Homo sapiens: one gene and its partner. The protein of the gene in region 2 interacts with the protein of the main gene of each other region in a pairwise test. Each region holds a gene or a part of one and is shown on either strand. Other genes may lie near its edges.

Region 1 (2,367 bases), on a different chromosome or scaffold from region 2:
TGAAACCCCATCTCTACCAAAAATACAAACCAGCCAGGTGTGGTGGCGGGCGCCTGTCGTCCCAGCTACTAGGGAGGCTGAGGCGGGAGGATGGCTTGAACCTCGGAGGCAGAGGTTGCAGTGAGCCAAGATCTGCCATTGCACTTCAGCCTGGGCAACAGTGAGACCCTGTCTCAACAAAAAAAAAAAAAAAAAAAAAAAAAAAAAAAAAAAGCCAGGAGTTGTGACTTATGCCTGTAATCCCAGCCCTTTGGGAGGCTGAGGTGGGCAGATCACCTGAGACCAGGAGTTTGAGACCAGCCTGGGCAACATGCCAAAACGCTGTCTCTAATAAAAACACAAAAATTAGTTGGCCACGGTGGTGCACACCTGTACTCCCAGCTACTCGGGAGGCTGAGGCACAAGAGTCACTTGAACCCGGGAGGCGGAGGTTGCTGTAAGCTGAGATGAAAACGGACATTGTCTTTGCTCTTTGTGCTTCTTTGGCTTTGCCAGTACTAAAGCTGTGCCTTACAGACCGGGTTTCTCTTCCAGGGATGTGTCTTGGTGAGCTAGTCATTAACCCCCACCAGCAGCACATGGATGCATTCTATTGGGTGATTGACTGGGAAGGGATGATCTCTGTCTCTAGCCTGGTGGGACTTCTTGAAAAGCACTTCTTCCCCAAGTGGCTTCAGGTACACTTTGTTTTGCTTGGATTTCTGGGGGAGGGAACTGGGTGGGGATTAAGTTAATTTTCTGCCAAGGCCTGACTGTAGGTACAATTCCATAATGAAAATAAATTACATGGTAGGGTAGGAATGAGTTAGGTCATCTTCATAGTGGGCACCATTTATTGGACATTTGCCATGTATCAGAAGCTGTTCCAAGCACTTTATTTGCTTTATCTCAGCTCCTCTCAGCAACCCTATGGGGTAGGGGATATGGTATCCCTGTTGTGTAGACATGGAAGCTGAGGCTCAGAGAGTTTACATGCAAGGGCACTTTAGCTACCAGGCTGACTCCAAAATCCATATTCATAAGTGCTAGACTGTTTAGCTACTATAAATCCCTGTAAAGTAGTGTCACTAGCCTGTAGGACCAGGATCAAAACAAAACAAATGGCCACTTCAGAAATCTTGCCTTCATTTGTTGCCACGATGGATGCAAGTAATTTTTCTTTTTGGCAGGTGCTGTGCTCTTGGCTCAGTAACAGCCCAAATTATGAGGAGATCACCAAGTGGTACCTGGGTTGGAAGTCGATGTTCTCAGACCAAGTGCTGGCACATCCATCTGTCAAGGACAAATTTAATGAGGCACTTGATATCATGAACCGGGCGGTGTCCTCCAACGTTGGTAAGTGAGGATTCCCATTTTGGATGTCCTGGCCCCAAGTTTCAGATTTTACACATGTAAATGACACAGAATCAGAGTTTTCTGGTTCCTGTAGGCAGCCTAAACCTTAGGTCACACTTTTGCACATAGCAACAGACTCTCACCCTGCTGACTGGGGTACATGGTCAGCTGGCACCCACTGCCCAGGTCTACCATGACTGAGAGGGGCATCTTCCCTGAGTGGAGACTGACTTAAGCTGGATTCAGATGATGTCAGTCTAACCCCAGGCCCCGCCCTCTTAACCACTGTGCTGTGTGGCCTTTTAAGGCTCATTCATGCCTGAGCATGCTGCTTAGGTGACGCATCTTACAGTGTGGAGTTTGGCACGCGGTCTGACACTTGGTGATTGCTCAGCCTTAATCAGCCCCATTTTACCTGTTAAACAGTAAGATCTACTTTATAGGCTAAAAGGGAGAGTGAGTTCATGCTTGTGTATAGCCTTCAATAGGTGGTGTCTGTGTTGTCAAAAACAGGCAGTTCACTGTTCGTGTACTATATCTGTTCCCAAGTTCTAGGTAAGTCATTCTGCCTAGATCATAAGTAAGTGAGAGTATATTTATGTTTCTACATTTGGGAGCCTATTTCAACCAGTCCTGTGCTCCAGTGTTGCTCATTAGCCGATTCGCAGCATTGAAATGGGATCGTCTAGTCTGTGTTTTACAGATAAGCCCAGCGAGGCTGAGAGCCTGTTCAAGGTCACATAGTTAAAGGGTGGCAGTTAGAACTGGAATTTCTATTTCCTGAGTCTTTAATTCTTGTTATTTAATAGCCTAGGCCAGGCACGGTGGCTCACGCCTGTAATCCTAGCACTTTGGGAGGCCGAGGCGGGTAGATCACGAGGTCAGGAGTTCGAGACCAGCCTGACCAACATGGTGAAACCCCGTCTCTACTAAAAATGCAAAAATTAGCCGGGCGCGGTGGCACATGCCTGTAATGCCAGCTACTTAGGAGGCTGAGGCAGAAGAATCGCTTAAACCTGGGAGGCAGAGGTT
Region 2 (3,500 bases):
TGAGTAGGGCTGAGCAAATGCGGCAAAATCAATGCACATATGACAAGATTCAGTGGCCCAAAGAAGGGAGCTAAATGAGGAATCAAAGCAAATACCCCATATGGAATTGCTGTAAAAAATCAGAGAAAACCTGAAAGTAGTGGTTTTCAAGCATGACCCACTAGTGGATTGAAAATCAACTTAGCGGGTTGGAACCAACTTCCTTTTTCTAAAACAAAAAAAGAATAGCATACATCAGATTGCATCAGGTTCTTAGCAAAATCATATTTTATATTATCTTTTTCATACCAAAGATATTTTATATTATTTTTATTATACCGTAGTAAAGGTATTGTTTCATGAAAGTTTTTAGTTATATATATTTATTTATTTATGTATACATATAAATCTTATGTGTATGTGATCCATGTACTATGATGTAAAATGTAAATTATTATGGTAAGTCAAGATTTTTTTAATTTTTAAAATTCTTTAAAAATTATTTTTATTTATTTATCTATTTATTTTTTGAAACAGGGTCTCACTCTGTTGCCCAGGCTGGAGTTCAGCAGTGCAATCCCGGCTCACTGCAGCCTTGACTCCGTGAGCTCAGGTGATTCTCCCCCTTCAGCCTCCCGAGTAGCTGGGACTACAGGCACACGCCACCACACCTGGATAATTTTTTGTATTTTTATTAGAGATGGGGTTTTGCCATGTTGGCCAGGCTGGTCTCAAACTCTTGAGCTCGAGTGATCTGCTCGCCTCAACCTCCCAAAGTGCTGGAATTAAAGTCGTGAGCCACCATGCCTAGCCTAGGTCAAGATTTTAAAAGTTTCATAAATAGTCCTGTAGAACACTGGGTGGAGTTTGGAATGGTGAAAATGTGTCAGGAGAGTATTGTAACTGAAATATTCCTGATCTTCTCTTTCAAAAAGATGGCCTTCTTCCCATTATCCAAGGCAAGGATTTCAGGCCTGAGTCAGCCATAAGCTCATCTGTCTTTTTTTCTGTACTTACCTCCTCATAAATGGATTAAGAGAGCCTCGAGCAATGGTGAGGGTTGGAGAAGGTGGACAGGTGGCCCAGTCTTATGCGCTTTCCCTCTCTTCCTTCCTTCTCCTCATCCTCCAAGGATGGTTGTAGCCAACTCCAGCCAAAGTGCAGATGCCAGAGAATCCTGCAGCAGTTGCTGAGAACACAGGATACCTGTCACATTTACTGAAGCAGTGGCAGGACAATGCATCCCCTGCATTGAGCTAGTTGTCAGAAGCAGAAAATAAAAAGTGTGTGTGTGTCTCTGTGTGTGTGTGTGTGTATGTGTGGTGAAAAAGAGAAATATATCTAAAAATAATCTTAAAAGACATGATATGTAATTTCTTACCAAAACTCAAGCCAAAGCAATCACACATACACCCACACACATGCACGCACACACCCCCATCCACACACACACACACAGAAGTAAATGACAGCAGTTGGACCATCAAAATCTGAAAAATTCTTTCAGGCCAAAGACTCCATAATGCTCTATAGCTGTTATTTTGCATTTCTTTGAATCTCCTCTCAGTTCTATTTAGAGATCACGAAATGTCTAATTTAATGGCCCTGCCCTTAGTTCTCCAGGAAGGAGATCTTAGTTGTTCATCCACGAACAACTTTTTGAGCCACTTTCCTACTTCTATTTCTTCCAGTAGGCAGATCATATTTTGGGTTTCTTTGTTTTAAGTTTGTGGTTTTTGTTTTTCCCTCTTTTTCTTTTTAGGTTGTAGTTAAGTGGTGTATACAAATTTATTAGCAATTTATTATATTGCCACTTTGTATTTTAATCTTTAATATTAAATTTTGTGTTTGGTAAAAATGCTGTAATTAGTAAAATGTAGAGTAATCAGTTTTTACCCATTCTCTGCTCTTCAATAACAGCTTGTTGAGTATTCTCTCTGATTTATTCTAGCATCAGACACACACACGCGCACACACTGTGCTGCAGCATGTTTTGTTTTCCAATTCTATGTAGCACAAAAAGACTTAACCTCATTCTTCTCCATATCTCAACAGTATTCCATGTATCTTGATGATCACTTACAATATAAGGCAAGTAAGCATAGGCAATTCATCAGATTTGAACCAGAGATGGGGTTACTAAGTGAACTATTAGTTCCCCAGAAGAATTAGCCCAAGCAAAGGTGTTGTACAGTATGTAAAATGTCTTTTCCTACTTTATACATTTTATCTGGCCAGAGAACACCTTTAAACATTAAATGCAATCATCCTTAGTCATTCAACAAATATTTACTGAGCAATTGATAGAGGCCATTCGCCAAGCTAGGCCTCATGGATCAACTCGAAATATGACAGACAGACTCTGCCCTCAGGGAGCTTAGAGTTCAGTAGACATGACCAGTGGTGACACAAGCCACTGGAGTAGCATCAGATGAGTGCTTTGGTAGTGGAAGAACCTGTTCTCAGAGCACAGACAGCTTTGGGGGTCTGTATTGGTTTGTGGTTTCATTTTAAAGAAGTGTTATCCAAAAATAGGGTTTGAAGAGTGATGAAAATTTAGCATCATCAAGGACTATAGAAAATTTGGAAGGCATATCTCCTAATGCTATCCCTCCCCCCTCCCTACACCCACAACAGTCCCCAGTGTGTGATGTTCCCCTTCCTGTGTCCATGTGTTCTCATTGTTCAATTCCACCTATGAGTGAGAACATGCAGTGTTTGGTTTTTTGTCCTTGCAATAGTTTGCTGAGAATGATGGTTTCCAGTTTCATCCATGTCCCTACAAAGGACATGAACTCATCATTTTTTATGGCTGCATAGTATTCCATGGTGTATATGTGCCACATTTTCTTAATCCAGTCTATCATTGTTGGACATTTAGGTTGGTTCCAAGTCTTTGCTATTGTGAATAGTGCCCCAATAAACATACGTGTGCATGTGTCTTTATAGCAGCATGATTTATAATCTTTTGGGTATATACCCAGTAATGGGATGGCTGGGTCAAATGGTATTCCTAGTTCTAGATCCCTGAGGAATCGCCACACTGACTTCCACAATGGTTGAACTAGTTTACAGTCCCACCAACAGTGTAAAAGTGTTCCTATTTCTCCACATCCTCTCCAGCACCTGTTGTTTCCTGACTTTTTAATGATCACCATTCTAACTGGTGTGAGATGATATCTCATTGTGGTTTTGATTTGCATTTCTCTGATGGCCAGTGATGATGAGCACTTTTTCATGTGTCTGTTGGCTGCGTAAATGTCTTCTTTTGAGAAGTGTCTGTTCATATCCTTCACCCACTTTTTGATGGGGTTGTTTTTTTCTTGTAAATTTGTTTGAGTTCATTGTAGATTCTGGATATTAGCCCTTTGTCAGATGAGTAGGTTGCAAAAATTTTCTCCCATTCTGTCAGTTGCCTGTTCACTCTGATGGTAGTTTCTTTTGCTGTGCAGAAGCTCTTTAGTTTAATTAGATCCCATTGGTCAATTTTGTCTTTTGTTGCCATTGCTTTTGGTGTTTTA

What was found. Proteins that work in one complex are often made in the same cells at the same time.
Region 1: the proteins of IL16 (region 2) and TFIP11 interact in binary tests that used the Homo sapiens proteins (3 or more experiments, as listed by UniProt).

Annotation. Positions count from the first base shown.
Region 1 is NC_000022.11:26,493,107-26,495,473, reverse strand, and holds part of TFIP11 (tuftelin-interacting protein 11), read left to right. Parts: intron 1-534; coding exon 535-677; intron 678-815; exon of another isoform or gene 816-1,169; coding exon 1,170-1,335; exon of another isoform or gene 1,336-2,367. UniProt on the Homo sapiens protein: Involved in pre-mRNA splicing, specifically in spliceosome disassembly during late-stage splicing events. Intron turnover seems to proceed through reactions in two lariat-intron associated complexes termed Intron Large (IL) and Intron Small (IS).
Region 2 is NC_000015.10:81,199,879-81,203,378, forward strand, and holds part of IL16 (pro-interleukin-16), read left to right. Parts: intron 1-522; exon of another isoform or gene 523-592; intron 593-3,500. UniProt on the Homo sapiens protein: Interleukin-16 stimulates a migratory response in CD4+ lymphocytes, monocytes, and eosinophils. Primes CD4+ T-cells for IL-2 and IL-15 responsiveness. Also induces T-lymphocyte expression of interleukin 2 receptor. Ligand for CD4.